Linked DNA regions of Homo sapiens: region 2 is linked to region 1. A link means that fine-mapping ties the variant in region 1 to the expression of a gene that starts in the linked region. Tissue or cell type: caudate. Region 1 holds a variant in brackets; the other region holds the start of a gene. All regions are shown on one strand. Distances are between the middles of the regions.

What was found. PIP is the estimated chance that this variant, and not a neighbour inherited with it, causes the effect.
Region 2: CRLF3 starts here. The variant in region 1 is fine-mapped to the expression of CRLF3 in caudate (GTEx, PIP 0.94). The same link has a PIP of 0.9 or more in nucleus accumbens.

What each region holds. Positions count from the first base shown.
Region 1 is chr17:30,727,202-30,732,347 of GRCh38, forward strand. It overlaps the pseudogene SUZ12P1. Among named protein-coding and RNA genes, the nearest start is that of CRLF3, 95 kb to the right of the region's middle. RefSeq lists an enhancer at 4,398-5,018 and a silencer at 4,716-4,785. The variant G/A (reference allele first, on the strand shown) is at 2,119.
Region 2 is chr17:30,821,691-30,826,836 of GRCh38, forward strand. It overlaps CRLF3 (cytokine receptor like factor 3), which reads right to left and starts at 3,002. Exons shown (of 8, transcript NM_015986.4): 1 at 2,833-3,002. The coding sequence starts at 2,961. RefSeq lists a silencer at 2,914-3,293 and an enhancer at 3,001-3,295.

The DNA.
Region 1 (5,146 bases):
ACCCCAGAGGTGGAAGTTGCAGTGAGCCAAGATTGTGCCACTGCACTCCAGCCCCGGTGACAAAGTGAGACTCCGTCTCAAAAAAAAAAAAAAAAAGGAGGTGGTGCCTCTGGCTGCCAGGAGAGCCTGGACATCGGAGGCAAAGGGGCCAGAGGGCACTTGGGGAGTGGCCAGGGCCCAGGACTAGAGGGGCAGATGCTGAAGACAGATGTGTGGACCAACACTGGGGTGTTCTGGAAGTATACACAGCCCAAAGACTTACTCTTGAACTGGATTTAGGGGTGAGAGAAAGAGGAGTCAAGGCTTTCAGCTCCTGGGGTTCTGGCTGGAGGGCCTGGAAGGATGGTGGCACCGTGCACTGATGTAGGGGCTTGTATTGGTCTGGTTGGGCTGAAGATGCCTTGGAGTTCCTGGTGGAAGTATACATGGCTCAGCGGGGGCTCCACTCTGGAGTCTCAGCATTCTAGGGTGCAGCCTGGGAGGAAGAGAGGGACTGCCTCTTCCGTGGGTGTCTTTGTGCCCTGACTGGCGCCAGGCTGTGCATGGCACCCTCTGATGGGGCCTGTGTTGGCCCAGCGTGTACGTGCACTGCTCTCCTTACCAGAACCCTGCAGAATAGCAGCGCAGAGGGAACCAGGGCCAGGGAGGTGAGGAGACCAGCTCAAGGTCACACAGGGCACGTATAAGGCAAAATTGGGATCTAGACCCATGTGGATTCGCTGCCCACACAACTTGGCATCGGGTGGCTTCCCTGCCCTTTTTTTTTTTTTTTAATTAAGAGAGGGTCTTGCTCTGTTGCCCAGACTGGAGTGCAGTGGCAGGATCATAGCTTACTGCAGCCTTGCAAACTCCTGGGCTCAAGTGATCCTCTTGCCTCAGCCTCCCAAGTAGCTGGGCACCACCACGCCAAATTAAAAAACAAAAAATTTGGCCGGGCGCTGTGGCTCACGCCTGTAATCCCAGCACTTTGAGAGGCCCAGGTGGGCTGATCACGAGGTCAAGAGATCGAGACCATCCTGGCCAACACGGTGAAACCCCGTCTCTACTAAAAATACAAAAAATAGCTGGGCGTGGTGGCGCATGCCTGTAGTCCCAGCTACTCAGGAGGCTGAGGCAGGAGGATCGCTTGAACCCAGGAGGCGGAGGTTGCAGTCAGCCGAGATCGTGCCACTGCACTCTAGCCTGGTGACAGAGTGAGACTCCGTCTCAAAAAAAAAAACAAATTTCTAGAGACATGTTGCCCAGGCTGGAGTGCAGTGGCACGATCATAGCTCACTGCAGCCTTGAACTCCTGGGCTGAAGTGATCCACCCACCTTAGCCTCCCAAAGCACTGGGATCACAGGCATGAGTCACCGTACAAATCCAGCCATTTTTACTTCCCCTAACCAGTTCCTCTGCTAGGATGCCTGTTGCAGTGTGAAAGAAAGCGCTTGGAGACCCTGGGAGGGGAGTACTCCTCAGCTTGGGGACACTGCCTCCACTGAACCTTTCTGTGGCTGGACAGTTGGAGAAATGAGGAAGTTGAAATAAGGAAGCCACTCCCCATCCCCAAAGTAACATGCTGGAAAATGATCTGAAAGTGACACCAGCCATGTCTAGTCACAGATGTGGGGGGAGATGCGGACGGGGGCTGGTGGCGGCTGGGGGAGTAACACGCTGTAAAATGATCTGAAAGTGACACCAGCCGTGTCTAGTCAGGGATGTGGGGGGAGATGCGGATGGGGGCTGGAGGTGGCTGCGGGGGATTTAGTGAAGAAGCTGGGGCAGTGGAGAGGGAGCTGGTATCAGGAGTGGGCATGAGAGGGGAAGCGGGCAGAGAGCTACAGGGCTGGAGAGGGGGTGTTCAGGGCTGTCTTGCAGATATTATCCTCCCATTTCCCATGTGAGGAGACTGAGGTCTGGACCAGGTGTCCTGCCCTGTGGGGATCTTTATTTATTGAGGGCCTGTGCCTATTTGTTTTATTTTATTTATTTATTTTTGAGACAGTCTGGCTCTGTTGCCCGGACTGGAGTGCAATGGCACAATCTAGCCTCACTGCAACCTCTACCTCTCGGGTTCAACCAATTCTTGTGCCTCAGCCTCCCGAGTAGCTGGGATTACAGGTATCTGCCACCAC[G/A]CCCGGCTAATTTTTTGGTATTTTTAGTAGAGACGGGGTTTCACCATGTTGGCCAGGGTGGTCTCGAACTCCTGACCTCTGGTGATCCACCCGCCTCGGCTTCCCAAAGTGCTGGGATTACAGGCATGAGCCACTGTGCCCAGCCGTGTGCTGATTTCTAAGGGCCTCTCTCAAGAAGCTCGTGTTGATAAAAAGGTAATTTCAGGTGCTCACTTGAGAGCTGTGAATTAAAAACAGGGAAAAGATGGCGGGTGAGGGCAGCAGGCGAGGACTGTTTTGTTTGCAGGGGGCCAGGGTAGGTCACTCTGCTGCGGTGACCTTGCGGCTGAGCCCTGAACAATGAGCAGCCGCAGCCAACATGCAGGGATCCTGCTTGGGGGCTGGAACTGGAATGTTGAATGTTTCAGGAACAGGAGGGAGGACAGAATGGGGCTTGGAGAGCTTGGTGGCACCAGTTCACCCACAGCCTCTGGGCTCTAGTGAGGAAATGAGACCCCAGCAGAGACCAGGGGGTCAGTTAATGTTCGGATCAACATCATTATGTGGTCCCTTAGCTCTGAGTGAAGGGCGGATTGGGAGGCGGGCAAGGAGGCCAGGACAACATACAGGTGACATAGGATGGCGGCATGGGCCTGGGTGCTGTGCTTAGAGCCAGAAGTGGGCAGGTCGCGAGATACTTGAGAGGCAGAGCCCACAGGACTTGCTGATGGCTTCTGTGAGGGGGATGACAGGGAAGGTGAGGAATCAAGGCAGAGTCTCAGCTTTGGGATCTGAGATTCATTCAACAAATAATTCAGTGCCGCGTGCCAGGCCTATTCTAAAAGTTGAGGATATGAAGACAACAATGGTGATGGCCTCAAGCAGTAATCCCAGCACTTTGGGATGTTGAGGCAGGAGGATCTCTTGAGGCCAGAAGTTCATGTTCAGCCTGGGCAACATAGCAAGACCTCATCTTTGCAAAATAAAATAAATTAGCTGGACGTGATGGCGCATACCTGTGGTCTCAGCTACTAGGGAGGCCGAGGCGGGAGGATCGCTTGAGCCTGGGAGGTGGAGGCTGCAGTGAGCCATGATTTCACCACTGCACTCCAGCCTGAGTGACAGAGCAAGACCCTATCTCTAAAAAAAAAAAGTAAAATTTGGGGATGCGGCCACCATGAGCAAAACAGTTCAATGATCCCTGCCCCATGAAGAGGACATTCTATACACCAGGTGAATAGTTCCATCTGAGCAATGGCCTGAAGGAGCCGGCCATGTGGACAGTGGGTTGGCAGAAGCTACAGGTGGAGGAAGCGACAGGTGCAAAGGCCCTGGGGCAAGGCCTGCTGTGGTCCAGGAATAGCAGGAGTGGCTGGAGCAGACATGGGGTCAGGGAGCTAACTGGGCCAATTACAAGGGTTTTGGTTTTCAGCAGGGAAATGGTAATGGGGGCTCTGATGAGAAATTCCAGGCTGGACATAAGAGATTTGAAAGTGCTGGCTCAATGATGGTACTGAGAGCCCAGGACAGCCTGAGATGGGACAGGCTGGGATGACAGCTGGATGTGACAGAGCAGGGGTTCCCATGCTGGAGGGCCCGCCTCAGAGAATGTGTGTTTCTGGCCAGCACAGTGGCTCACGCCTGTAATCCCAGCACTTTGGGAAGCCGAGGCAGGCGGATCACGAGGTCAGGAGATCGAGACCAGCCTGGCCAACATGGTGAAACCCTGTCTCTAATAAAAACACAAAAAAATTAGCCAGGCGTGGTGGCGAGCGCCTGTAATCCCAGCTACTCTGGAGGCTGAGGCAGGAGAATCGCTTGAACCCGGGAGGCGCAGGTTGTAGGGAGACGAAATCGCGCCACTGGCACTCCAGCCTGGGCGACAGAGGGAGGCTCCGTCTCAAAAAAAAAAAAAAAAAAAAAAAAAAGCAAGGCTCGCAAAACACCGGATTCCTTCTCAGCTTTCTGAGCTGAAAAGGTATAGATCCTCAAGAAGAGAAGAGTGTATGTAAGTACTTCTCAACCAGTTTACCTCTCTGACCGCTCTTACGGTGTTTGGGGGCAAAAAACTAAGGATCTAGACTCTCTAAACCGCTCGCTGGGTCCTTCTCTCCCCACAATGCACCGGGGCCAGCAGGAAGGCCGCTCCGACCCCTAATTTTCCCGCGAATTCAGTTCAAAGAGGCGGCCGGGCCCGCGATCGGCAGCGCGCACCGGCCAACCAAGCCGCGCCTCCGCGAGAAGCGCCTCCGCGTGACTGACGGGGGAATCCGCGGGCCAACGGGCTGGGCGGCCCGGCGGTGCGCGCTCCCGCCGGCCAATCAGAGCGCCGGGCGGGGGAAGTGGGCGGAGCGAGGCCTGGGTAGGGTGAGCGGCCTCCGAAGCGGAGCGGGGCTCTGAGGAGACACTTTTTCTTCCTCCCTCCTTCCCTCCTCTCCTCCTGCCTTCCCTTCCCCTTTCCTCCCCTCTCTCCTCCTTCTCCCCTCGGTCAGCCGGAGCCTGCTGGGGCGAGCGGTTGGTATTGCAGGCGCTTACTCTCCGGGGCCGCCCGGCGAGTAGCTGGCCGGGGAAGGAGGCAGGAACCGCGATGGCGCCTCAGAAGCACGGCGGTGGGGGAGGGGGCGGCTCGGGGCCCAGCGCGGGGTCCGGGGGAGGCGGCTTCGGGGGTTCGGCGGCGACGGCTTCGAGCGGCAAATCCGGCGGCGGGGGCTGTGGAGGCGGTGGCAGTTACTCGGCCTCCTCCTCCTCCGCGGCGTTACCGGTGAAGAAGTCGAAAATGGAGCACGTCCAGGCTGACCACGAGCTTTTCCTCCAGGCCTTTGAGAGTGAGTGCGTGCGAGGCTTTGAGGGCAGGAAGACCCACTCTGCCAACACCGGGGATGGGACACTCTGCTGGGCCCCCTTCCTCCTCGGGAGTCCACTTGTGTGGTAGTGGAGGGAGGAATTGAGGGGATGTCCCCCTTTCGGAGATTACGTCTCCAGGGGATCCGGAGTCCAGGGCCTTGGGAGAGCTGGAAAAGAGGGTCCGGGCGGGTTCTTGACTCCCCCA
Region 2 (5,146 bases), 94 kb after region 1:
TGTATGAGTTCATTTATATGAAATGACCAGAATAGGCAAATCCATAGAGACAAAGTAGTTTTGTGGTTGCCAGGGGGTATGGGAGTGACAGCTAAGGAGTTCTTTTGGGGGTGATGAATATATACTTGAATTAGACACTGGTGATGGTTGGACAACTCTATGAATATACTAAAAACCACTGAATTGTAAACTTTAAGGCATGACTTTTACGGTGTGTGAATTATATCTCAATAAAAAAAGTCACATGCCAGGCAGCACAGTGGCTCACACCTGTAATTCCATCACCGGAAGGCAGAGGTGGGAGGATCTTTTGAGCCCAGGAGTTGGAGACCAGCCTGGGAAACGTAACAAAACCCTGTCCGCACCCCCGCCAAAAAAAAAAAAAAAAAAAGAAAAGAAATCATCTGCCAAAAAGATATAAAATCAGCAAGTAAAAAATACAGACGACAGGTGGCATCCCTTCCTCTCTGCTCTTCTCATGCTTCTCCCATGCAAAATCCTTGACTAAAGTGCCATATATTTTACAGTTATTCTGAAAATGACTGGAACCCTAAAAATATCCAAACCACCAAACAAAAGCAGCTGCTTACTTTGATAATATTTTTGTACCATAGACCTTCCTTAAAATGCAAGTTGACAGAGGACTTATGCCACAAACCCAAACATGCACAATCCACTAGAGTTAGCTTCGAGAGATGCTGTTGTAACTGCCACTGGCACAAAACACATTCCCAAAAGAGACTCACACTCACAAAAGAGAACTACATTATTACTCAGTCTAGTCAGAAGGCAATGTCATCAGGAACCTAATTGTGATCGATGTTCATTTAGTGTTTTCTGTCTGAAGCCCAAGACAATGGGCCTCAAAAACAAAACAAAACAAAGCTCATAATAAACTAAACCACAGAAAAGCATGTCCTGTATTTAAATTGTTGGATATAAAATTGAAAAAATACAGGTTTGAAAATTGAATACTGAACCATCTAGGGTGTAATCACGATTTTTTTTAATGCATCCAATATCAAGAGAAATTAATTACTCCCAGGTGCTAAACTCACTCATTTAGTGTCAACTCTGATTCTTAATTGCTAATACAAAAACAATAATCATGGTCATATAGAATACATCTTAACTGACTGAAATGTTAGATGGTATTTTAATATCTTTCTTTTCATACAATGTCTTACATCTAGAGTCCCTATTTCAAAATAGCAGAAGGAATAATGCAGATATTTTCAAAGAGAAATAGAGATGAGTGCATTGAAAGGCCTTGAAAAGTATTCACCAAATCAGCATAATCATATCTAGATTCTGCTTCCGGTTTCGCCACTAAAATGCAAATGATGTCTGGCCTACACTGGCTTTACAAATATTTTTAAATATATAAAACCCGGCCGGGCGCGGTGGCTCACGTCTGTATCCCAGCACTTTGGGAGGCTGAGGCAGGTGGATCACGAGGTCAGGAGTTCAAGATCATCCTGGCCAACCTGGTGAAACCTCCTCTCTACTAAAAATACAAAAATTAGCCGGGTGTGGTGGCGCAGACTTGTAATCCCAGCTACTCAGGAGGCTGAGGCAGGAGAATCGCTTGAACCCGGGAGGCGGAGGTTGTTGCAGTGAGCCGAGATAGTGCCACTGCACTCCACCCTGAGCGACACAGCCAGACTCCGTCTCAAAAAAAACAGATTATATATATACATACTTATATATGTTTGTATATGTTTTATATATATATATAAAACCCAAAACATGTTGAGTCGTTAATGATGAGAATATCCAAAGACACTGTTAGCACAGCACTTTTCTACCATTTTCAGGTTATATGCAGCAAGGAAGTGCTAAGACGACCAACTAGATTAATATCAAGTATGACCCAGAGAAATTCAGATGGAATCCCACTCACTCAAAAAGCACTTATTAAGCAGTTGCGTTAATAGTACTCTGAAGATTATCCGTCCTATCGCCAATTGGCAGCGGGTTATATCTTTTTCTATATATATTCGAGGGTATAGAGAAACCATATGGCTTTCCTGTATCTTTGATAACTCTTGCCCTGTGAAACAGATAACTGCACCACTTGAAATTATATTTAGCTTTTCCTTTCAGCACTCCTCTCTTAAAATCTATTTTTCCATTTCTCTATACCTTTGTATTCCCTCTCTCAAGGAAAAGGAAATCATTTTCCTTCTGCTCTTCCAACATAGCTTCACCTTCACCTTAAATTTTAAACCTTCTAGAACAGGATTACTCTAAATGATTTTTTAAAAAGCATTCAAGATCGTATGACATATTATTCAGGCATTAACCGCATTTATTGTCAAATGCTACTGCTTCTCAATCCCTACCTCTCCCTCACTCTCGCCCCTTAGTCCTCCCCTTCCAATATCCATTTTGTCTCCACTTTCAGCTCTCCCAGGTCACTGTCCCACCTCTTCCTCAGGCTCTCTAAAATCAATGCCTCCCCGCCTACCCACCGCAGGTTTTTTACCAGTCTCCTCCTCCCCCGACTCATCACTACCCGCATGACCCCCTCGGATTCTGCTCTGGTCCCTCACTCTCCCAAACTTCGGAGGCCACCGCTACTCCCATCGCTGCCCCACAGTTTAGTGAACGCTCCTCACACCCTCCCTCCACCCCCAAAACTTCCCCTTACGACCTCCCCAACTCCCACCTTCCCCGTTCCCAGACTCCATTAGGTCTCCTTTCAAATGAATGCCTCTTCCCTACTCCAGAGTTTTCGGACAGTCCCACCCCTCAAAGCCCTCCCAGCCTTCGCCCGGCATCCGCGCCACCCCCGGGCCCACAGCGCCCCTGTGGGTGTGGCCCTCCGACCTGCCTCCGCGCCTCACGCAGCCCCTCAAGCCGGTGACCCAGCTCCCGCCGGTAGCTCTGCGCTGCCTCCACGTTCTCGCGGGCCTCCTGCAACAGCAGCTCAGGCTCCAGCTCCATCGCCCCCCTCATCTGGCCGCGCGGCCGGCGAAACCTAGCGCGGGTTCCCGACTGCACCGGGCGCCTCCAAGCGGCCCGGCGCGGCCTCGCGCAGGCGGAAGCACCGCCCAGCCCCGCCGCCCCATGCCCCACGACGACCTTGATTGACGGGCGCACGGCGGCGCCTCGCGCGGGTGGCGTCCGGGTCCCAGCGCCGCCCGCCCCGCGGCTCACCCCGCCTCTTCCGTGCTGCGGCACAGCGCCGCTGGTTGGGCCTCCTTGGGAAACGTGCTGAGGCCTGGCAAGGTTGATAACCCGCACCTTGCCAAGTGCTTCTCACAGCTCATCGCATTCTTGCCTGACCTTCAGCCCTACCTGTATCTCCATTGCTCAGATGAGGAAATTGAGGGATAAAGGGGGGAATCGGCCGGGCGCGGTGGCTCACGCCTGCAGTCCCAGCACTTTGGGAGGCCGAGGCGGGCGGATCCCTTGAGCTCTGGAGTTCGAGACCCAGCCTGGGCAACACGGCGAAACCCTCTCTCACCAAAAATACTACTACTATTACTATTACTACTACTACTACTGCTACTACTAGCAACACGTAGTGGAGCACGCCTGTGGTCCCAGTGGATCGCTTGAGCCCGGGGGCCGAGGCTGCAGTGAGCTGTAATGGAGCCACTGCACTCCAGCCTGGGCGACAGAGCGAGACCCTGTCTCTAAATAAAAAATACTTTTTTTTAAATTAAAAATTTTAAAAAATAGCGAATCGACTTTTCCAAGCCGCAGAATTTGAGCCCAGATCTGATGACAAAAGCCCTGGTCCTTAAGAGCAGAGCAGGCCTTAGGGGAATTTACTAAGACCCAGGTGTCAGCGGGGAGCAGTGGCTCACGCCTGTAATCCCAGCACTTTGGGAGGCCGAGACGGGTGGATCACTGAGGTCAGAAGTTCAAGAGCAGCCATGGCCAACCTGGTGAAACCTCATCTCTACTAAAAATACAAAAATTAGCCGGGTGTGGTGGTGGGCGCCTGTAATCCCAGCTACTCGAGGGCTGAGGCAGGATAATTGCTTGAACCGGGAGGCAGAGGTTGCAGTGAGCCAAGATTGTGCCACTGCACTCCAACCTGGGCAACAAAGCGAGACTCGGTCTCAAAAAACAACAACAAAACCCAGGTGTCACCACCCAGAAGCTCGTGGACGAATGGGGGATCCAAGAGAGAGGCCCAAGAGATGACCAGCAGGACAGCAATTCTGGCACAAGTCCAAGAAGGGTGTTGGCAAGTGTTATCTGTAAGGACCGTAGTGAATAAGCTGGGCTTGGGCTTGCCAGACCGGAAGGTATCTGTCACAATAGGTGTGACTGTATGTAATAAAACCTTATGGGCAGGGCATGGTGGCTCACACCAGTAATCTTGGGAAGCTAAGGCAGGAGGATTGCTTGAGCCCAGGAGTTTGAGACCAGCCTTTGCAACATGAGGAGACCTCCTCTCTACAAAAAGATTTAAAAAAAAAATTAGCCGCGGGTGGTGGCGCCCTCCTGTGGTCCCAGCAATTCAGGAGGCTGAGGTGGGAGGATTCCTTGAGCCTAGGAGTTAGAGACCAACCTGGGTAACATAGCAAGACCCTATGTCTATAAAAATAAAAATAAATAAATAAATAAGTAAAATTACAAGGAAAACTTCCATAAAACCAGGACATGAATCTTGGTCTCATTCAACTTTGTTTTCTTAGTCTGATGGAAGGCAAGAAGTGTGTATCTAACATATCTACACTATACCCAAAAACAAAACAAATAAGAAAATTGAAGGAAATATTCTAAAACTGCTTACCCCTAGACTTGACATTTTTAGATGCATTGTTTTTAAATTTAGAGCATGAATTCCTAAAGAGTAAATGTTCTCGAGGAAACTGGTTTAGAAGTAGATGTCAGCTAGCCATCAGACAGAGTTTTACAGAGATATCTCCATGGCATCACATTGGTCCAGAACTGACTTTTCAAGTGTACCCAGAGGATTCCAGGGAACAGACTCTTGCTAATAAGACTCACAAGAAACAAACTAAGCAGCTTGCCAATTTATTTATTTACAACAGGAATATAATTGTTGAAAAAAATCACAATAGCTGGAAAATCAAGTTATAACCAGAGAGTTGGATTCAGATCAGAATACGTTGGTCATCTGGTCAGCAAAGGCTTTTTCCCTCTCCTGTCTCCAACCTCT